Linked DNA regions of Homo sapiens: region 2 is linked to region 1. The links come from fine-mapping of genetic effects on gene expression. A gene starts in region 1. The other region holds a variant in brackets. All regions are shown on one strand. Distances are from middle to middle.

Region 1 (12,067 bases):
ATGGACTGGTTGAGTAAATTATAGTAAATAAACATAATGGGTTACTATGCAGCTATAAATAAAAATGAGGAATATTAACATATATTATTGTAGCGTTATAGCCGGGATATAGTGTTTGATGAAATAAGCAAAGTGGAGAAAATTGTATGTATATGCTGCTACTTGCATTTTTAAAGTGAAAGGCTAAATCAAGGTAAAAAATTGTTACTCACAGGAAGAGACAGGGAGAAAGCTGGAGGGGACAGGGATAGAGGCTAAAGTTCTCCAAATACAAATTGTTTTGTAGATTTCACCTTGGAACCATGTAAATATTTTACATTACTATAAAGCAAAATTAAATTGTAAAAATCAATTCATAAAAACTGAAAACAAAATGAAACAAATGAACATAACTATGCACTGAGTTAGTGGCACGATCATATATAACAGAATTAATTACACTTTAAAACTATATAGCTTAGGCTGGGCACGGTGGCTCACACCTATAATCCCAGCACTTTGGTAGGCTGAGGCGGGCAGATCATCTGAGGTCAGGAGTTTGAGACCAGCCTGGCCAACATGGCGAAACCCCATCTCTACTAAAGGTACAAAAATTAGCCAGGCATGGTGGTGGGTGCCTGTAATCCCAGCTACTGAGAAGGCTGAGGCAGGAGAATCGCTTGAACCTGGGAGGCAGAGGTTGCAGTGAGCCGAGATGGCGCCACTGCACTCCAGCCTGGGCAACAAGAGTGAGAATCGGTCTCAAAAAAAAAAAAAAAAAAAAAACAAAAACAAAAAAAACAACCAACCAACCAAACAAACAAACAAACAAAAAAACTATATACCTTAAAATGTTTTTAGTAATCACATTGTTGGCAAAAGTGTTGCATTCGTATCTAAAACTACCATGAGGGTAATTTGTATATATTGTGGAACAAGAAAAATGAGAAACTATCTGCTGTTCTAATTCTGTCACCTTGGAGTCTTTGAAAACTGGAATTCTAGGCATAGGACAAAGGAAATACAGATGCAAGATAAAACGTTAGGCAAAATCCCTGTAGTCCCGATTCTGAGTTAGAGGTATAAGTATGAACTCATACTTGAAAAACAATTTATTTCATATTTCTGTCCACTGAAAATATCTAGAAACAATGATCAAAATAGTAGTAGCACCTGGTATACAGGGGTCTCCAAATACCATTACCCACGTAAGGAACTTGGATTCCATAGAGAAACGGCTCATTCCAGGTTCTGAGGCCAGATATGTGCAAGGTAAGCTAGGGATACCTTACCATACTACTGGCCAAAGATGAAAAAATGAAAGCATCAATATGAATAATGTAAGTTATATTTGTAATGATACAAAAAATTAGTCACCTTTAGAGAATGATTTGGAATAAATTAATTATTTTGAAAATCAGTAAATAAAGAGAAAAAATCATTTGTTTATCCTTCTTTTCCTGTACATACCGTACCTCAGGGTAATCAACTGACAGGATAACGCTTCTCCTAACAGAAGTCTTCTAGCTGTCAAATAAATAATAACAAAATTAGAATATTATCATTTTTTCAATCCATAGTGAAATAATGGATCTAGGTAATGATCATCAATAGCTGCTAAAATCACAGAATGAGGGTTAACTAGTCTTTAGGTGCCTTCTGATGGAAGATCACAATATTACCTATGAAGTATACATGTAAAAAATATCAAATCTGCATCTGATCAAGACTTTAGTTCTCTCAGAAAATTCAGAAGATAGAAGAACATGTTAAATAACACAACAGGTGATGCAATCGGCAAAATTTATGCTTTGTGAAACTCTGCTGAACAATGTTGCCACTATTCAACAGAAAATTACAAGGAAAAAAATAGCAGGATTACATAGATCAAAGGAGTTTAAGACTGATGAATCAGTTGAAATATATAGACATTATTTCAATCTTGATTTAAAGAAGCAAACTATAAAAATCTATGGATTGGGGATAATGGGTATGTGGGTGTTACTTACATTATACTCTCTCTGTTTGAAATTTTCCATAGTAAAATGTTAAACAATAACAGCCAAAAACAACTAACCCCATACCAAAAACAACTAATCCCTATTAAGTGCTCATTATATGCAAGGCACTGTTTTAAGTAATTTGCATATTTAAACTGTCCTCCTGTCCATGAGGTCGGTACTCATCTCTACTATACAAATGAGAAAACCAAGGTATAGAGTGGTTAAGCACCTTGCTTAAGGCCACACAGCTAATAAATTATGGTATTAGGATTCAAAACCAGGCAGTCTGACTCCAGAACCCATTTTCTAACCGGTACACTAGTACCTATCACAATGATGCTAGCTTGGACTAGGTTGGTGATAATGGAGAAACGTGGATGGATTGAAGAGATACTGAAGGTGAAATTGACCAGACTCCATGCTGGATTGCACACGAGGCTAAGGGTCAGGGGAGAGTCCAAAATATTTGTGAGGTTTTGGTTTGCATCATGGGATACATGGTGTTATGGTTCATTGAAATAACAAGAATGAGAGAGGATCCCGTTTAGAGGTAAAAGATGATTTGGGTTTGGAGCATGTCAAGATTCTGGTGCCTTTGGTATATCCAGGTGATGTCAGTTGAGCAGCTGGCAATATTGGTGCTCTTATATGTTAGTTTTCCCCCTTTTTCCTCCTTAGAACTGTATACATTTTCTTGGGATGAAGAGGGGAAGGGGCTACTTTTCTAGTATTGAAGTATAATAATGTAATATTCTGTTCTTGTTTCAGAGGTGTTGTAGCAGTATCACTTGCACATTTTATAAGACTGCTTTTGCTCCATTGTCTTAGTAACTGGGAGAAAACAGGTCAATGAATCAACCATCCCTTGATTGCTTACTATGCCCAGCCACTGTATTAGGTGCTTACACATTCTATCATTTCCTTCTTTCTTACAGTTACTTTAACAGTTATAAAGATGTTCTTCTTCTCATTAAATAAGGAGATGGAAGATCAAAAAGAGTAAGTCACTTGCCAAAGTTACCGAGCTGTAAAGTAGTATTCTGCATCCCTAGTCTGTGTTCTCCCATTATGCCTCTATTTTTCAAAGTGTGGGTGATGACTTAGGTGGTCACGGTCATGGTGTTTAATTGCACAGACACACACAGTAAGAAAGCGCTCTGTTATAATTTTCATCCAATCTTCTGTTGCAACATGGAGAACAACTCAGTTAGGTGTTAGTATCTCTTTAATACCTCTCTAACACTTGGCCAATCTCTGTTTTCAACCAAGAAAGGAGAGCCTTGGACTCAGAGTCTTGAGCAAATCATAACAGTATGTAGCAGGAATTTGATCACATCTTATCTTCATTGTGTATATTTTTAGGGATACTTTCTATTAATAAGTGATATTAGTGTTTCCATTTATACAGCAACATAGAATTGCATTTAAAAATAAATTTAAGTAAAAGAAATAAACTGCATAAAAGAAAACTATTACATACATAAAAGTAACAATGGTTCAAAGAAAGGAAAACCAAACACAAACTAGATGAGGCTGGAATCCAACGGATGACCTTTAGAAAACAGTGCTCTTCACCATATTTCCTGCCCCTCACCCCAGTTATGGGCTTTGGTGCTGGCCTTACTTCTTGAACAGCAATTGAATATCTTAACCAAAATATTATCTGGAAACACTTCATCTAGTTACTGGTGAATGCAGCTAGTTGGAAACACTTCATCTAATTACTGGTGAATGCAACTCTCTAGTGATCCTGTCACAGATCCCAAATACTGCGGGCCAGACGGTATTTTCATTCTGCATTGATCAGATTGACATGTTGGATGGAACCCCCCAGCCCTTGGCTGCCCAGCATGTCTCCCATGCCAGGGTGTCAGGAAAGATATAAGAGCAAAGAGTACATGACCAATAAGTCATGGCAGCTAACACCTAAGACACTGGGTTATTTTGGAAATCTTAAGAATATCTAGGTGATTATCTATCTATCTATCTATCTATCTATCTATCTATCTATCTATCATCTATATTTTACTAACAGGCATTCTAGTATTAAAGCTATGTTGACTAATTTCCATCTATTCCTCTTCCTTAAAGCTCGAATTCCCCAGTCTTCTATGATACCATGTTTGCACATTTTGCTCTTTCCTCACCCTCCTCCCCTTTTCTGGGACAGAAGCTATATTCAGTATGTTTGTGAGAAACGGTTGTAAATAGGCTGCCTTAAAAAAAAAAACAAAAAAACAAAAACAAAAAACACATTTTTTAGTTCTTCTAAACACAAACAAAGGCAATAAAAATTCCCAATGCTACAGGTATTTTAAAAGACATCATTGTCACGAGGTAATTTTGCTTGTGTGTTCCCCAAGGAACTGAAAAGTACATTATAGTCACTGTAACCCTGCTGAGTAGAGACAGTATCTTCTCTTTATTCTTTGTTATTACTGATACTATCTGTTCAGCACATTAAGGAAAGAAATTGGTATCTAATATAATACATCTGCATTTCTCTCATTTCCCATGAGCACCACAAAGCCAGTACTTTTTCATCCTTGGCCCTGCCAGAGTAGAATCCAAGGCCTGAACAATAGTAGGCTTAAGTTTTGCATTTTTGATGTATTCTTTAAGTGAAGGTGGTAAATATTGATATTGGTAAATATCAGTAAATTCGTCTTCTTAAAGCCACAAGGTCAAAGAAAAGACAGGTTCCGTCTTCCTAGGCGGGGTACCCACAGCCCCGCATCTGCCCACTGTGGCTATCCCAGTTCCTGAGAACCTGGCTACATCATACACAGCACACAAGGCAGAGGCCTGACTAGTGCAACTCCAACAAGAGAAAAGACCCCCACTCCGAAAATGGAAACTCATCCCATTCCCATGCACAGACAGGGTGAGGGTGAGGAGTGGGCAGTGGGTGTGTACGTGGTGGGTGGTGTAGGTTGAGAGCGTCTTCCCCCTTCACGGCTGCAGCAGGAGCTCAGCGGGCGCCCCAGCCCCTTGGCTCGCGGCCCTGCCCCGACCATTGTCCGCACACCTCGTCCCTCCAGCTTCCGGGCCGCGGGCGAGATGATTTGCTGCAGATGACATCAGCCCCGGGCCAACGGCTGGAAGAGCGGAGGCAGCCACCGCGTGAGGATGTGCCGGGTGGTCCTTTCCTCCTCCTCTTCCTCCTCCTCCCGGCTCCCTGCCTAGTCTCCATATAAAAGCGGCGCCGCCTCCCCGCCCTCTCTCACTCCCCGCTCCTCTCCGCCGCGCACTCTCCGCGGCGCTGGGAGAGGGCGGAGGGGGAGGCGGCGCGCGGCGCCAGAGGAGGGGGGACGCAGGGGGCGGAGCGGAGACAGTACCTTCGGAGATAATCCTTTCTCCTGCCGCAGTGGAGAGGAGCGGCCGGAGCGAGACACTTCGCCGAGGCACAGCAGCCGGCAGGATGGCGACCGTGGTGGTGGAAGCCACCGAGCCGGAGCCGTCCGGCAGCATCGCCAACCCGGCGGCGTCCACCTCGCCTAGCCTGTCGCACCGCTTCCTTGACAGCAAGTTCTACTTGCTGGTGGTCGTCGGCGAGATCGTGACCGAGGAGCACCTGCGGCGTGCCATCGGCAACATCGAGCTCGGTAAGTGGCCCCGCGCCCCCAGAGACGCGCGCTGGGAGACGCGCAAACACGACCCCACCCAGGGCGCGACGGTCACTGCGCTCCTCCCGCGCGCCCCGCACCCATGCCTCTCCTCGTCACCTCTCATACTTGGTCCAGACCCTTTCTGGGCTAATTAAGAATAATCCGAATTATTAGATATGAGACCCAGAGGGAGAGTCTCCAATAACCTTGAGGGATCTGTCACCACGCTGAGTCCGCAGCCTGTGCTGAGTTGGCCACCGCCTCTCCCGCTAAGTGAAATGCAGGTGTCAGGGGAGCAGAGGCCACAATAAAGCCGCAACCGCAGGAGGCAGAAGGGTGGGGGAGACCTGATGCAACCACTCCTTTCAGTCCTCTTCTGGCCTCAGGAAAAGGCTGGGACCCCCACCACCGCAGACCTGGGGCCGAAGCCCATGTGCCAGGGCCCGCGTGGGATTCATCCTCACCACGGCTACCTCAGCCCCTGAGAAACGCCTTTTCTGATTTCAAACCTCCCGATCCTTTCTTTCCTCAGAATGACTAGGCTAGTCCTAGGGCCACGCCCGCTCCCCCCGCCCCCCCCTCCCCGGGGAGATGCTGGGATGCAGAACCGCCTGCGCTTCGCCACCAGACAGAGCCCGCCTCGCTACCGCCCTTGGGGCCTTGGCTGCAGCTCTCAGAAAGGACAATGGGACCCCAAGTTGCGGGGTGGGGCTGCTGCTTTTAGAAGTCCCAGCCTCGGGAGTGGTAGCTTGAAGGGGGTCGGTGAGGGAGACGTCAGCGGGTAGGGTCAGCTCCTCGCCCGGTGCTCGCACCAGTGGCGCGCTCTGCGGAGGCCGAATAGCGGTACGCCGGGGACCCTGGGCGGGGCCGTGAGGGTCCGGCGGGCACAGCCTCGGGCGCACAGAGAGACCGCCCCCAGCCCCACCCGAGCTGCCGCAGTGCCTCCGGACCGCCCGCCACACCTGCCCCCCCACACTGCGGCGCCCCCGTCGGGCACGGCTGGCTGGGCTTGCGCTCCGCCCGGGCCTCGGGCTGGCGGGGGCCGCGCGCCCCCACCTCTCAGTTTGCCTGGCTTTGTTGCCCTGGGAGTCCCTGGGTGGGCAGCTCTGGTCTCTGCCTTTCCCTTTATCCCTGGCGTCCCGGCCCTCCCCTCGCTCCTGACAGAGGTCGCCGGGTCCCTCCGCAGCCCCAGCCCGCGCTCTATTCTCCTGGGGTGGTGCTGAAGCGTTTCTCCGGGAGACACCGGTTGGTGGGCGTGGTGCAGTCCGCACTGCGGTCTCTACGGCAGCCCGAGGCGGACAAAGGGCGTTCACGCAGCCCTCGTTCCCCACTCCCCCTCCCCAATAAAAGACGAAAGAAAAACCTTGTTTTAGATGAAAAAATAAATGCTTGTCATCTGCCTCTGCAGTTGGAAACGGCCACTTGTCCCCAGAACAAAAGGCTGCAGGGTGGGGACTGGAGTTGCAGACCTGGTTCTTTTGTTTAACTTTAAAGCACTTGATTTTCCCTTTTAGCTTAAAAAAAAAAAAGAAAAAAAATGTGAGCAGAAAGTCATAGTATTTTATTCCAAAAAATTCAAGAACAAGAGATATTTCAGTAGTGAAATGTCTTATTTGAGCATCTCAATAACCCTTCATTTTCAGACTATATAGGCCTTTGGTCTAATCTGTTCTAATTTAGTTTATTTGCACAATTTTCTCCTGGAAAAATTTTACACATACTGACTTTGGGTGTGGCTATTGTGGGAATCAATGACTTTGGATTTTTTTCTTTAAAAAATTATTTGTAAGTAGCATTTCTGGGAAATAGGAATATATTAGGAGGTGCTTTTCTATCTACAAAATCTTCATAACCATTCGATGTGGTGGTGCTAGGAGAGGGATCATCAACCCCGTTTTAGAGCTGGGGGCCCAGAGAGGCAGGAAGGGTAAGAGAACCGGCTCAAGGTCACAGCACTCATAAGTGACAGAAGTACCAGTACTGCAGCGTCACTCGTTTTCTGACCCTGTCATGATGTTAGTGCAGGGTTGGCTAACATCCTATGATGGGAGGAAGGTTTCAGTACAACAGTTTTCAGGGCTTGCCTTTGTATGGCCATCCACTTGTGGGCAGCGCCCCATGCTGGGAGATGGTTCAGCAATCACCTTCGGATCGTAATTATCTTCCTGCTTTGTTACTCATCTGATCATCCTTTCAGCGCCCTATTCCTCAGAGGGTTTATACAAGCTGCATCTATTTATGGAGAAAACAGACGCATCCACGTACTGCTATGAAGAAGGGCTCCCTGCCTTTACTCGTTTTTACACTACTAGCACTTAGTGACAAAATTCAGATTTGTCTTCTTGACATTAATTTTTTAAAAAATTCGGTTGAAGTATTATATAGAGAGGAAAGGGCACAAATCAAAGATGAGCAGCTCAACGAATTTTCACAAAACGGACACGCCTGGGTTACCCAGATCAAGAAACAGACATTACTGGAACCCCAGAAGCCCCCTTGTGTTCCCTTTGCAATAGACATCATGGCTTCCTGATTTTTTAATTCCCTAATTTGGTCAGGTTTTTGCATGGAACTCCGAAATGACTGTATTGATCCCATTAAGAATCAACCAAGTGAGTGAGCAGAGCCGTTTCTTTACACACCGTAGCAGATGCTGCTTTTCCTCTGAAGATGGCTCTCCTGGGTTCTGGGGTCTTGGCTGCAGCTCAAGATGCAGGCCCTTCCAGCGCTAAGTGAAAATCCTGCTCCCATAGCTTTTCAGACAGTCTGAGATGACTTAGCAACAGAGCAGGCTGGTCCTGTTTTCCTGTGCACGACAAGCTGCTGCTTCAGCCGCCAGGTCTCAGCTGGGCCTCCTCCAGAGGCCACTGCTGTTGTTGCTTGGTGCCTTTGGGCCTTGTTGTGTGAAGCAAGATGGAGCTGCTCCAGGGGGGCCAGCTCTGATGATTGTGTGTTGCAGGCTGGGAAGGCAGTTCCGCATCTGTTACTCTTTCTTCCTATTTCCCCTCCTGCCTTAACTGAGATTCTGGGTTTGGAGACCCTGGCGACTTGGATTCTTGCCATCCGATTACTGAGGGCTCTCTGGGAAGCCTAGAAAATAATCTATAAATCTGTAGAGACATGGTGGTAATGCAGTAAATCAACAGGCCTGGAACGTCCCAATGTGGATGCTTCGTAAATGCCTCTTGAAACCAGGGAAGAGAGATGGTCCCTCTTGCTTTCTCAACTATATTCGGAAAGCATAATGAAAGCTTTGGACATGTCTCCTCCAGAGTTTGGAACAATAGTGTTTCCTCGGACTAGGCTAGCTTCATTTATTTAGTTATGCAGGACTTTATTCCAAATCGTTTTCGCTACCACCAACTACTACTCTTTGGCACCTCCTTTTTCTCCTCCCTAATTAGCCCCCAGCATGGATTTAGCTAGTGGTTCTCATTTTCAGCAAAACCCTGCTTCTTGGTTTTATTTTAATACATAGAGGACATACATCCGTGTCTTGCAAACTGAATTCTAGAGCCTTGTGAACGTTTTCATTGTTTCATTTTTTTTTTAAGGAACTAAAACATATAAAGAATATTAAGTGTCTGTTGGATGTTTTCAATTACCGTTAGATTATAACTTTTCCTTTAGTTAACACTGGGAATCAGCAAGATTTGTTGGTGAAAAGATAGATGAATGTAACATCTACTGCTCTGCATTTTTAGATAAAAGTTTAGCTGATTACATTGTTACATTCTGATGTCACTTAACTGAATGTCCTTCAGTCTAAGATGGTAAGAGAATTTAAAACCCAGGAAAGATTTGGGGTTTAGTTTTCCTTTTCTTTTAACAGGGGAAATAAGAAACCAATACCATATGTGGTGAGAATTAAATGTTAGAGAGTCTTAAATTTACTATATTTGCCTATACTTTTCAAAGTCGAAGACAGATGGATTTCTGCTTGCACTGCTTAATTGGTATTATCTACGACAGCTCTGTGATCCATGCTGAAACACAAGGCAGTCCCCAAATTTAAGGTCATTAAATTGTTCACCTTCTCTAAGGGCTTACTTTAAAAAAATAAGTTATAACTTTTTAGACAAGCAAATAATTATGTCACTTCTCATTTGCTTGTGTTGTAAGATGTTATCTCAGACCTAAATTATTTATTATCAATGCTTTGAAACTATGAGCTCTGTATGTAAGATATTATCGTCATTACATACATATGTTATGAACATCAAGTTGCTGGCTTTAAAAAAAGAAAAAAAGCAAATTAAAGATGAGTTCAAGGGAAAAAATAAGAATTTTTTCCTCTGAGAAATAAAGCATTCCTAAATGTAGCATTTCCTTTAGTTCATTTATTTAGTTTATGATTTCAATCTGATTTCAGACCACTTTTTAGCATAGTTTTACAAATATAATCTTATGATTCTAGGTTAATGATTTAGGTACTTGGAAAAAATATCCAAAAGCCTGTTTTTCAGAGGGAGCAACTAAAGCCCATAAAGGAAAATCAACTTGCCAAAGGCCCAAATAACTGTCAGATAGAACCCATGTGCCATCAACATACAATGCATGGTCATTTCATTTTGCTTTCTTCAATCCACTGTCACCTTTAGAAATATGAATTTTAGCTTTTAAATGGGAGGTGCTTTTTTAAATTGTTGGTTTCATTAAACAACCCTGCAAAATGCTTACATGATTGGAAAACTTGGAACAATCTAGCCTGTACACACCAAGAGTACCTGACTTCTCCTCATTTTTCACCCTGACTTGTTCTTTAATGACCCCTCCCTGCCTCCCTGCCCCATAACCTATTCTTTTCTCCTTTTCTCATCTGTGTATATCATGTGCATGTCAGCCTCCCTTGTGTGCACTGCTACCACCTGGGGTCAGAGAACTGAGAAGGAAAGATCTTTTGTTGCTCCCTGGTCCCAAGGAGCTCACTTTCAGGGCTGGGCAATAGCCACAGAGCAGGCCCAGATTGTTCTCAGAGATGACGGATGCCTTTTGGCTCCAGACATTGAAAGAATGGGGTTCACTGCCTCCAACTGCCTGGAGTTATTCTGCCCCCACCTGGGTAAGCCCAGAAGGGGTACAGTCTTAGAATGCTGGGGAAACAAAGCCTCCAGGAAGAGCTTGACTTGGTGTATATTGGGGTGAAAATTAGAAAGAGGGCTTCCCTGCTCCCCAACAGAGACCAGGATGACTTGCTTCTGAAAGCCTCTTTAGAACCTCTTCACCAACACCCCAGGATGCCCTCCAGCCAGATTCAGAGAGGGGAGAATATGGGAAGGGCCAAAGAGATATTTTTCTGTCCTGTAAACTTTAGAGGGCTCACTGTTGGCTCCTTGTTAGGCACAAAGGGGAACTACATAAACCTACTAAATGCAATATGAACCTTCATTAACAACTACTCTTTGCCTTTACCAATATTATCCAGCAGGAGATACAAAGTAATTACAAATTATTTTATTTCTAAAATTGGTATGGAAAGTGGCCTGATTCCAAAATTTTCCTTTCCAACTAAAATAGCTGGCAAATCCAACATAACCTTTATTTTATAAGTGGTAGTAGTGGTTGTGCATTGCTAAGAAACAATTTGGGTGGAAATTGCTCTCTTGAAAAAAGAACCCTACATTTTTAGTTTCATTGGGAGTGTAAAAATGAGAAATATTTTTATCAGCCGTTTACTAGTATAATTTAGAAATTACTAAGTGGATTTATCATTTAGTACTTTTTCTATTGCTAAATTACAAATATGTCAAAAATAAAATATGTATGAAAATATAAAGCAAACATTTAATTGTGTGTGCCATGACAAGTTAACTGAAGCCAAGGGAAAATGGCAAGTAACAATGTAAGAGCAAGTCTGCAGATAACCCTGGATGAAGTCATTCAAATAATGTACCAATTTAGACATTACTTAGAACAAAGACAGAAAAATTGTATGAATTTAATTTAAATGCATATGTCTCATTATTAACTTATTGACCCAGCTTGACAGGGTAGAAGACAAAGTAGAGCTCAGACCTGGAACAAGGAGAATTCAGTCAACAATACCAATTAAGCAGCTCAGACAGGAACTCGATTTTTTTGCACTAGACTAGTATATAGTGTATACATTGAAGTAAAATATTCTAATGAATTCAGACCTCTCAACCTGTCAAGCTCTCTGTGAAACAAAAAGAACCCATTTATCATTTCTGCACTAAAAAGATCTGCGAAATCTCAACATGCCTTTCTTGTTAAAATTCAAATACTCCATTAGCACAAATGCAAACTGAGGCTATTAATGTTTCCAGGAAGAGCCATAAAATTCTCCCTTATAATTTGACCTTTCCTTAAGCACGTTAACTCTTCCACATCTGAATTCTTCCCATTGATCATATGAGAAATTTCTGCCTGTATTTAGTGGACACACATCTATTTGAAAATATTCCTCCTGGTTGAAAAGGTCTGTGGTGTGTAATCTAAAGATATTTTAGATGTGCA
Region 2 (12,067 bases), 260 kb after region 1:
GCTCCAACTCTTGCTACTCTACGCCCCTCTTCCCCTCTTGTGGAATGGCTAATTCCTACTCATCATTCAGGTCTTGGCTTAGACATCTTTTCATCTGAGAAGGCTTTCTGGTCTAGTCTCACCTGGTTAGGTGAACTCCCCATGTGCCCCATGTACCTCATTTATCAAAGTGCTTATCATATGCCTGTCACTGTCTGTTTTCTTCACTAGACTCAGGTGCCATGTCTGTCCTTTCTGCTCTGTTTGCTGGGTGCCTAGCATGGTAGGGGATGTATCAGAGGATTAGTACTTATTTAACTCACCAGCTCATTTAACTATATTGTATAACAATGTTGGTGGTCATATTGGTCCCCCATGGACAGCTTTTCGTCTCTAATACCATACACTCAGTGCAGGGTCTGAATGTCCCCCCAAACTCATATGTTGAACTCCAAATCCCCAAGGTGTTGGTATTAGATGATGTAGCCTTTGGGAAGGAATTAGGGTGGTGCCCTCATGAATGGGATTTGTGTCATTATAAAACAAGCCCAAAGAAATTTGGTCACCCCTTCCTTTAAGCGAGGTCATGGCAAAAAGACGCTGTCTATGAACCAGAAAATGGGCTCTCACTAGACACCAAATGCTGGTGTCTTGTTCTTGGATTTCCCAGCCTTCAGAACTGTGAGAAATATATTTCTGTTATTTATAAGCCACCCAGTTTTTGGTATTTTGTTATAGCAGCCTGAAGAGACTAAGACAGCCAGTCCCAACCTTCCACATTTAGACCTGACTCCAAGTTTTGCTCAGCCCACTGTGTATCCCTTCCTCCTCCCAACCAAAGTGTCCCCACTCTTTCTCTATTCTGTTCTGCCTATTATTCAAGGTCTAACTTGTGTCACTTTTTCAATGAGGCATTTGCAAGCTCTTTAAATTCTCAAGGATTCTCCATTAATTCACCATATCTATTTTGAGAATCTACAAAGGACAAGGCACTACGAAAGACTCTACATGCCACAGGGAAAAGACAGACAAGATCTCTGTCCCAACACAGAAAATTTTAGCCTGCCATGTTGACTCCCAGGGATCTTTTTGTTTCTGTAGGAGGTGCTCATTACAGAGTGGCCAAATTCCTACTGAAGAATGGACTTGGTTGTGAAATAAAACAATCCTGGGCAATATTTGTTGATAGTTTTGTTGAGGATGATTCAGGAAATAAATACAAACTTTTAACTACTCATAATGAATATTGTTGGGATATTATAATGAGGAGGTAAGGATTTACCTGCTACAATTTGGGTAGGCAAAAATGTAGGCTTCTCTGTTTCTTTGCAGTGAACTAAAACTTCTTATGAACTCTGGTTATACTGAAAACAGGAGTCATGGGAGACTTGATCTTGCTTAAAGGATATTTTAGTCTTTGATTTCTTTGAGGTAAATGTTCAATCTTTTTGCGTATCTTCCTCCTACCTTTTCATAGCCAAGATGACAGCTGAACAGGCTCTCATCTTAAACCTGAACAGGCATCAGAATCACTTGGAGAGCTTGTTAAAATACAGATTGATGGGCCCCACCCCCAGAATATCTGATTCCATACATATGAGTCAGGGCCCAAGAATTTGCATTACAAATGCATTCTCAGATGATGCCTTTGCTAGTCTGGGCAACACACTTTAAGAATAGTTGGTATAACAGAAAGCTTGTGTGTCTTGTGTGTCTATGTGGACAGGAGTTGTGGGCTTCAGATTCATCCTCTGTGTCCTCTGGTCTCAGTTGTGAGGAGGGGGAAGAGTGGGAAGTCTGGCCTTGTCTCTGGACTCCTGAGTAAATAATGTGCTGATGCAGTGTTGGGCCCAGCAGGCCTTTTAGAGGGTCATGCCAGCACCCACTGCTGAGGTCTGTAGTCTCTACCATCTGCCCTACACATAATAAGTACCCTTCCTCTGCTATTCTCTCTTGCTGACCCCAAGCCCACCAATGAATTAATTGAATCAAGAGTTCCAAGGCATTAGGTTAAAGACATTGAAAAATATATCCATTTATTTTTTCAAATATACATAAAGAAATCCATACAAACTAAGGCCAATTGTGGCAAAACTACATGAGACTTGACTAAAATAACCCACAATTCAAATTTCCTTCATAACATTTCTACCTATAAATTTGATTCAGAGAAATTACACTTCATAGATAAACTAGCCATAAAAAAGATTACAGCGGCAAAAGCTATCATCAGTAATATTTGATATGCATAAGAAACCGTGAGGAACCAAATCATGGTAAAATTGATTCTAAGGAAATGGTTGCACAAAAATAAAAGTGAAATGGTATTTTTTAAAAGGAAGTGGTTCAACTGTATTGCATAGAAAATGAATCAAGGAATTACATTGGCTTAAATGGCATTAGCTCAAAAAAGTGTTCTCAAAAATTAATGGAAATTGGTGTATTCTGATTGAGATATGTTTTATTCAATAACATGGAGTCAAAACAAGAAGATTTTTTAAATGTCCTCTGTTCCCATGGAGCTTGCATTCTGCAAGAGCAACAGACATCAAAAAGATAACTGGGCAAATGACCACATGATTGCAGTTGGGATAAGTGCTAAGTCTAGGGTAATCTTCATATCACCCTGTGGCATGTATAAAGGAAGACCTTTTGCTGGTGTTTTGTAAAACCAGTTGTCTGTGTCATTTATTTTAACATGTAAAGTACACTGCCTTGTATTGTTACAGATCTTTTTCTCCATATCCGGTCTCTCCTGAAGAACAGAGTATTCTACATTTGTTTTATATGACCCCAAGGTGCTTATGTAGCATATTATTTATACATCTAATGAGGTCTTAATATTTTTTGAAAGAGTGATTTCATTAATTAACGGCAGATTTTAGTTAATATGTACAGTCTGCCACAATATACTTTAGGCATTTCACAGTTTTCTCATAAACTGGTTGCTGTTTCTGTCCCGGTTTTACACATGACAGAGCCAAGACACAGACAAGTAGAATGACTTGCCTGTGCGGGGGTCCTGGGTTGGCCAGTGCATTCATGTACTGGACCAGGGCCCCTGTATCTTGCAGTAATGTATCCGTGGGCGTTTCCCCCCAGACATTCGAAGCACACAGCTAATCTGAGAAAGAAGTGATTTGGCGAGGGGTTGGGGGAGTAGGCGGTGGGCACAACGGTTCCAGGTGACTTTCAAGTTGCTAATGAAAGAGGATCAAAGCGCTGCTGAACTGCTCACCTCCCCGCTTGGCCTGCCTTGCCCAGCTGACTTTCTTCCAAGGGCCTCAGAGGCAGCATTACCACAGGCATTAAAGATGGGGATGGGGAAAGAAGGCCCAGAGGGAAAGGGAACCACATGCTTACCTGCTAATCACTGCCCTGCAGCTGAAACACTGCAGAGCTGGCTGCTCTGGGATAGGAGAGGAAGGCCTCATTTAATCAGGAGAAGAAAGAGAACCAGGGGCCTCTGAGATGGCCTGCAAGGCATCACGGTCTGTGAACTGGTCTGTGAACTGCGGGCCTGCCTGGAAATGCATTGTCAGAGTAGAGTGATGCTTTCTTTGTAAATCCCTTGTCTTCCCTGATTCCTTTTTCCTGACTGAATCAGGCCAAGATGCTCACCCAGAAGAGCACAGCATCACCCTGTCTTTCAATCCCCAAAGTAGCCCTTACCCCTAGACAGCAACATCATCTGTTACAATTGACAGCATGAAGGAAGGCATAACCCCTGCAAAGTGACTGCCCTACAACTCAATTTGATTTTGAATCCGCAAGTGCAAGTCTCATTCCTGGTAACTAATAGTAACAGAATCTGCTGATGTATTCTACCGCATCCCAGGGAGACTCATGTAGCCATGAAGACTGAAGAGGATTAAGTTAACCTTCCATTTTATAGCTGCAAATTACTGGGTTGATGTCAGGTAGGGTGAGGAGTATGTTCCGGTTATAGCTGGTAGCAAGATGGCTGCATGCATCATGAGGCTTTGGCCTAAAAAGCTTGTCATTATATAAAAAAGCTATAGAGAGCAGAGAAAATGTCATTTCCAATTTAGAAGATCATAATCGATTTTTAACACATTGGTCCTTAGGTGATACAGAATTCAACAAAAACGGGGCTTATAAAAAGCCAGGGTTCATAAAATTACAAAGATTATAGACAAAAATAGATAACATATAAGACTTACCAGCTGGGCAAGGTAGCTCAAGTTTGTAATCCCAGCACTTAGGGAGGCCGAGGCAGGCAGATCACCTGAGGTCAGGGGTTCTAGACCAGCCTGGCCAGCATGGTGAAACCCCATCTCTACTAAAAATACAAAAAAATTAGCCAGGCGTGGTGGCGGGCATCTGTAATTTCAGCTACTCAGGAGGTTGAGACGGGAGAATTGCTTGAACCTGGGAGACGGAGGTTACAGTGAGCCTAGACTGCGCCATTGCACTCTAGCCTAGGCGACAAGAGCGAAACTATGTTTCAAATAATAATAATAATAATAAGACTTACCATTTGCCAGGTCCTGTGCAAAGCACTTTATCTCATTTGATCCCTGGGAAACCCCATAAAGTACTATTATGCCATTTCTCAGATAAAGAAACTGAAGCTCAGAGACGTTTAGTTGCTTGCCTGTGGATATAACACTAGAGAGCGGGAGAGCACAGTATTTGAACCCAGGAGGTCTGATGCTGGAGGTCATGTTTTTAACCTTATCTCTGTATTGCCTGCCCAAGTGCTGGCTGTGTGCATGTATTCTCAATAATCCCTGGCCAACTTCCTGCTTTGCTGTCAGTAGCAGAGCTGAAGAACTTACAATAGACGGCAGAGGGCGTCCAGAGTCACTATTTTTAAAAGGTGCTAGTTTTCAAAAGCATTTCTGGAATTCAGAGAGAACAGAGGTCCACATAGCAGGCTAGACAGGAAAGGTAGCTGTAGATAGACTTTAGGGAGTATATAGAATATTGCCTTCACGCAGGTTAAGAAATATTTAGTGTTGAAAGGATACTTTTAAAAGAGAGAAAGCAGTAAAGTTGATCCTCTGCAGAAAGTAGACCAATGTAAGTATCATGCAATGTGTCCATGTGCGTGTACACGTGAGCACACATGCACACACACATTAGATGTTTTGTGAGAAAACATACACTCAGTTTCTTATGAAAGAAAAAGGATGGTCATTTGTCTCACTTGGGAAAGGGTTTCCTCCCAAATTGAGAAGGAAAATCCCCCCAATTAACTGTTTGCCTTTATTAACTAAAATCACATTTGTGTGTGAAAGAAGTAAAAAGGAATTAGGATCTTGGTTATTTTGATTGTCTCTCTACCCTTCCAGATTCATCAAATGATAGTCAACCTTACTGTCTCTTCCTGCCATCATCAGGAATGACTAAATCTTGGAGCGTTCTCCATTTAAGTGAGGGAAATGTTGGATTCCCGGTGTATTTATCACTGCCCATCTCTAAGAATAGGTCAAAGATGAAATTCCCATTATCATGAAACTTTAATATATATTGAGACTTCACAGAGCACTAACTATACTGGGGCTGGGATGGGGATTCTGATGAGAGATATCCCTGACAGAGACCAGAGCTCAGGAGGAAGAAAGGACAGATGCCCTTGTTCAAGATGACTTCTTCATGGGCATCGATAGATACATTCTTGAAAACCACCCAAAGTACCTAGAGGAGACCCTAGTGCAACTGTGCATTGTACAACAACTGATGAGGTAAAAGAAACAAACTGTTAATGACTCTAAACAATGTGGCCCACAGAGTTGGTATGGTTTGGCCACACCAGCTCAGGGATAAAGGTACTAGAAAAAATCTTGGGGAAAATCCTATTGTACATATTCCTTACATAATGTCTGTGATTTACCTCACTTATCAAATGAAAAAAACCCAAAACACCTGGTTGATGGCCATTTGGTCAAACACCTCTAGGAGTCTGGAGTTGAGTGGCCAGAACTCAGTCTTTCTTTACATGCTGTGTTAAGCAGGCTTTTATCTCATTCAGGTGTTAGAAGTGGAGGGAGGAACACA[G/A]TTAGGCTGTGTTCTACTGCACTGCATAGGGAGGCAGGGTATCACCCAGGCACAACGCCCACTTTGCAAGTAAATAATCAGTAGCATGAAGCTCACTTCTGCAGGACCCACCATGACAAAGTGGAGAGCTGGGCGGTTAACCAGTGAACCAATTGAGTGGCTCTGGGCTCCTATACCCCTTTCATTCCACAGCCTGTGATACACCCTTAGAGTCAAAATATCAAATTCAGTGGGCCATGAGTCTTGCCCAAAAGTATAAATCTTTTTTTCATATGGACTATTTGGGTCTATTTTCAAAAATCCCTTTTTCTTCTCTAAACTATCTCAATTCCACATTTCACTTTGCAGGTGTAGACATGACTTTTAGGTTGTTGATGATTTAATGCTATTGAAATGTTCTTATATGCAAAACACCTAGATAGATGCAGAGTGTGGGACAAAGACAACCAGCACATTGCTAAGCCCAAGTAGCAAATTTCCTGACCCCATTTTAAAGGTTCTGAGACAGATAGGCGGAATAGGTCCCCCTGTCTTTGAGTAGAAGAGTTGGCAAGCAAGCTGGACTAAATGGGCCATGTGCAATTTTGCTGTCTGTTCACATTTCAAATAAACTAATGTGTTATGATTTTTTTTTCTCCTTGAATTTTACTTCCTCTTCTTTCTCTGTTCTTCTATTTTGTGTCTTCCCCATCATTTTGTTAATGCTTCTCCCTTTGAAAAAAAAATATTTTAGGTCCCTTTTTCAGGTTCTTTTGTGACAGAGCTTGGCTTCCTGTGTTCTCACTCTTTCACTCACTGACTCAGAGTAGAGGCTGCTTTACTGGAACTTAGGAGAAGCCAGAGGTTTGCTTTCAGTCCTGTTTTCTCCCAAGCCTAAAACTCTTATTTCAAGGGAGAAGATGTGTAGGCCAAGTTGAGAAAAGCAAGCAACAAGCCTAAAAATCATTTTCCTCACCAGCTGCCCTTGGGCTACATCCTGTAGAAAGGTGACAAGGACACTTGGAGCTGTCCATTTGCTCCCCAAATGTGTCTCCCAATGCCCAGCATCTTATGCAGCCTTTGACATGAGTAAAGTCCCTCAAGGTAAGCCATGGGAAAGATCAACCTACTACACAACCATCTTTTACTGCAACCCAAGGTACATTTTAACTTTCCCAGTTTATTTGAAGGAGAATATTAACAAATATCAGTTTTTTCCCCTGGAAAACATAGAGGAAAGATTAAAAACAGAAAAATGTTTGCCAATTCAGTATTTCCAGGCCTAATATTCAGATACCACCTAATAACAATGAACTTTAGATGTAGGTTTAAAGCCCAACTCTGGAACTACATGTCTCATCCTCTACTTACAGCTTAGAAGATGCTTACTACCACAAAATTAATTATATTATACTACTACTTTCATCTTTATTGTTTTAAGTTGAAGCAGCCAAACTGCATTTGTCTGCAGCAATTAGGGAAGGAATATTCATTTGTAAGTTAATCCCAGTAACTAGTTCTTAGAATTGACAAATGAATAGAAAATGCTCAATCAAACCTCTGGGTAAGAATTTGAAGATTGTTTCAAGTGAGATCAGGGAAAATTGTGCAGCTAATTAAGACAACCATGGGAAAAGAGTGAACCATGATGTTCATTATGACTCAGTTCATAATACTTCTAGGTAAAGTCCACACTATTTGGAAAGCACTGCAGCATTCCTGGTGTCAAAACCTCCAAAAGCACATTAGAAAAGTGAAAGATGTTGGTCCATGATGAGCTCATCTAGTTATTTTAGGATTTCTGTAGTCACCTATGTTTGGTATTAAATGATGATAACGAAAATGCCTTTCATTATTTATCCCTGGTTATCATGCTTTCCATTCAAAATAATAAATAGAAAAGAAAACCAACTAACAAATAGCTCATGGCTGGATTTGTTCCAGTCAGTTCCAATAGAACCACAAGTTGCTAAAGAAATTTACCCATTGACAATAACAACAGCACAGCAGCGAATCTTGAGCCTTTCTTTCACACTTCCCACTGTCACTCGCTGTAGGGGCTCAGATTTTGAGAAATTTAACCTGCATGCAAATGTGTGACAGTGCTTTCCTGGCAACCTGTCATTTAATAAAGAATAGGAAATGAAAGGCCTCACTATTGCCACAAGGTTCCTTTTATGCAAGTTTCCATAACTTAGGGAGATGCCTTTGCTGCTTACTCTTTGTTTCCCTCATTCATACCACTTTGCATTACCTCAAAGCAAAGAAGGGGGACTGCTGGTCCCAGCAGTGAAAGGTCTCAGGAATGGGTCGAGATTCCTTTCAAGGGAAAAGGAAGGGCACCCTCAGATTAGATGTTCTCCAATCTGCCCTGGAACACTGAGCTGGAGCCCCAGAAACCACTGCCTAATAACAATAATTTGCATACCAAATATATTAAAGTCCTAGAAAGTCTGAAGAATACCATTTGCTTAAAGTTTAAGTAACCTCAGCAGCACTTAAGACCAAGGACTGGAATGTACAGCTGTGCAAGTCATACCCCAACTACAGGCATGTGGCAGAGGTGGGGAGTGGAGGCCAGGATCCAAGGCTGCTGCTGCCAACAGGGAGAGGCACCTTTCACTAATTCACCCAAACCCACATGTGGATGAATGGAGGCCATGAAAAGTCACCTGAACTCTTCTGCTTGATGGTGAGAATGTGGAACATGGCATCCCTCTCCCAAAGCCCCCAAGGCTTCTCAGCACCCTGAGCATCAACTCCGAAGTCCAAGTGCTAACATGCCCTGAGCCCACTGACCTCTCTAACCTCAGCTTCCCCACACCTTCCGTGCGTTATTCCTGCACCCTGGTCTTCTTTCTGTTCCTTGAAGACACCAGCACATTCCTGCTTCAGGGCGTTTGCACTTGCTGTTCCCTCTGGCTCAGTCCTGCATGTCATTCAGGTGCCTGATCAAATGTCACCTCCTCAGAGAGGCCTTCCCTGACCACCTAGTCTAAATTGCACCTTTCCTCCTCTCTATCCCTTATCTTGCCTTTAAAAAAAATATATAGCACTTACTACTTGAATTTTATATTTGTTTGTCAATGATTTGTCTTCTCGCTAGAAGAAGAGTTGGCAAATTACAGCCTGAGGGCTACGTCATACAAGCTGCCTACTTTTGTAAGTCAAGTTGCATTGGGGCACGGACACTATCATCTGTTTGCACATTGTCTTTGTTGGCCTTCACACTGCAATAGAGACTACATGGTCCACAAAGCTGAAAATATTGATCATCTGGCCTTTTACAGAAAAAGTTTGCCAACCCCTGCTCTAGACTGTAAGCCCCATGAGGGCAGGGACTCTGCCTTTTGTGTCCACACCTGTATCCCCAGCACAGAATATTGCCTGGCACTTAGGTACTCAATATCCACTGGATGCCAGTAGCAGTCCCCAAGTCCTGACAACCAAAAATGTCTCCCAACTTTGTCAAATGCTTTATGAGGGGCAATATCACCCGCTGGGGAGAACTGCTACATTAGCCTGAGTCAGGAAGACACTGGGCAGCTTGAAAGTGAAGTAGGTTAAGAACTCGCGGCCGGGCACGGTGGCTCACACCTGTAATCCCAGCACTTTGGGAGGCCAAGGCGGGCGGATCACGAGGTCAAGATACTAGTGATCAACCAGTCTGGCCAACATAGTGACACCCCATCTCTACTAAAAATACAAAAAATTAGCTGGGTGTGGTGGTGTGCACCTGTAATCCCGGCTACTCAGGAGGCTGAGGCAGGGGAATCGCTTGAACCTGGGAAGCGGAGGTTGCAGTGAGCTGAGATCACACCATTGCACTCCATCCTGGGCGACAGTCCGAGACTCCGTCTCAAAAACAAAACAAAACAAAACAAAACAAAATAAAAAAAGAACTCGCAGATGCCGCACGGGGGAAGGGGTCTATTGAAAGCCTGAGGTGATTGGGCCTCGGCTTTCTCTTGGCTTCTTTTGCTCTTGAATAAAAACCGCTGTGCCTCTTCATCTCCAGATGATCACCCAACATGATTATGACAAGTAACCGTAGAATTTGAAGAATGAACCTTAGCTACTTCCTCGCTTGGTTACCCAACCGGCCTTTCTTCCTGGGACCCATGGGGTCTGTATTATACTGAAAACCGCTGCTGAGTTCAATATGCACGAGAACAATTGAATCCTAGTAATCAATAAAAAAGAACTAGTTATTGATAAATGCAACAACATGGATGAATCTGAAAGGTGTGATACTGAGGAAAATAAGGCTGTCTCAGAAGCTGCATACTGGCTGATGCCAATACATAATTGGCAAGTGTCATTTACATGACTTTCTGGAAAAGGCAAAACAATAAAGAGAACAGATCAGTGGTTACAAGTTTTCGGTGGGGGAGAGTGTGACTACAGAAGGCAGCATGAGAGTTTTGGGGGATGATGAAACGGTTACATATCCTGATTGTGGTGGTGGTTACATGAATCCATACATGCATTAAAACTCATAAAACTGTACACCAAGAAAATGATTTTACTGTATGTTAATTAAAGAGCAAAACAAGTAGTCTTTGAAGAATACGATGGGCTTTTAATACTTGCCCATCTTCTTCTAACCACAATAAAATATTGAAAGCCATAATTTAAAAAATGCACCAGGCAACAAGGCCTTGACTATTGGTGGCAATTGAAAAGCTCAAGAGGAGAGGAGAAAGTCGATATTCTGGAACTACATGAAGAACTTTAGCTTCCTTGCTTCAATTCCTCTTTCACTTTCCATAGAACAAGGTGATCTTCACTTCTCAATCCAGGATTACCAAATTCCACCCCAGAATTGTCTGGGTTTTCTTGATGAGAAGAGAGAAAATGACTTTAGAAATCAATAGATACTGGAACAGATGTGCCAGTACACTTTGAGGTTGTGCACAGGTCACAATATTTTGTCTGATGCTCTTGTGCAGATGAAAGGGGCTCAGGGAAGTGATAAGGAAGAGCATAAAGGAGTGTGTGGGGTTAGCTTTCCAAGGTTTCAGGCAAGAGAAGGAAAAGAGCAAAATGAAATGAAAATGACTCTTGGGAGATCAATATTCTGTGTGTATTATTCATATGAACAGTATCAGCAGATTCACGCATATATGAAATGATCAATACTTCCGGGAGATTTTTTTGCTTGGCCAAAATATCTAGTTGCTCACCTATGCCGATGATGGTGAGGATGGGGGCCCAGGGTATGCATAGGAAGGCAGTGGTGACTTCTACATTGAATTGTACCCTATATGCATACAGTTGAGAGTAAGAATATTCAGCATCCCTTTCTTTTTTTTTTTTTTTGAGGAACTGCAGACTGTGGTTTACATATACATGAGAGTGCTGTTCACAGGAAAAATATTGCTTAGTTGCTTCTGCAATAAAAATAATAAGTTGCAGCATTATTGCATCAAAAAAAAAAAGAATGTGCTTGACTTCTCAGAGAACGAAATGCATGGCAACTGTAAGAATCGTAGTGTCATCCACCTGATAGTTGTCCTGAAAGAGCTGCACAAAGCACAGATGACGATGGCACAGTTGCAAACAGCAGACTTCTTTCTCTTCTCCCATCACCCAACTTTTTCAGTAACAATTTTAGATGGACAACTGAAGTGCTTGCACATTTTTTCAGAGGGAGCCTAGTGTACCAAACATCCTCAGGAGCTGTTGACTCTTTTCCCTTGGCTAAAAGTAACTGAAAACAAAATTTTAAGTTATAGCCCTTCTGTGTCTGTACGGTGCAGGCAGAGTGGGGTGGCAGAGAAGAAGTGTGTTGCAGTGGAAGTAGCTCTGACTTCAGATCATGTAGAAAGGAGAGCTTTAAATTTTTCAGTTGCATTTGACATCGTCACAACCATGCTTCCAGCTCCTCCCCCTCCGCAATGTGAGGAAAGATTGTTTTATTCTCATTTAACAGAAGCCAGAACCAAAGCATAGGTAAGCTAAGAATTTGCCAGAGATCATACAGGGGGTGGATGGGAAAACAGCACATAAAACCTGAGTCTCCTGGTTCTAGCCCCACCCACACCTACCCCCAGCTCCATTAGGCTGGCCATACGATAAAGTG

Evidence for each region.
Region 2: its variant is fine-mapped to the expression of MAP1B in minor salivary gland (GTEx, PIP 0.93).

What each region holds. Positions count from the first base shown.
Region 1 is chr5:72,102,129-72,114,195 of GRCh38, forward strand. MAP1B (microtubule associated protein 1B) reads left to right here and starts at 5,347. Exons shown (of 7, transcript NM_005909.5): 1 at 5,347-5,587. The coding sequence starts at 5,404. LOC105379028 (a long non-coding RNA gene) reads right to left here and starts at 11,359. Exons shown (of 3, transcript XR_007058813.1): 1 at 6,647-11,359; 2 at 5,797-5,859; 3 at 1-1,506. RefSeq lists enhancers at 5,266-6,248, 6,654-6,948.
Region 2 is chr5:72,361,768-72,373,834 of GRCh38, forward strand. It overlaps PTCD2 (pentatricopeptide repeat domain 2), which reads left to right. Exons shown (of 10, transcript NM_024754.5): 10 at 1-6,628. It also overlaps the pseudogene RPL10AP8. Among named protein-coding and RNA genes, the nearest start is that of PTCD2, 47 kb to the left of the region's middle. The variant G/A (reference allele first, on the strand shown) is at 6,004.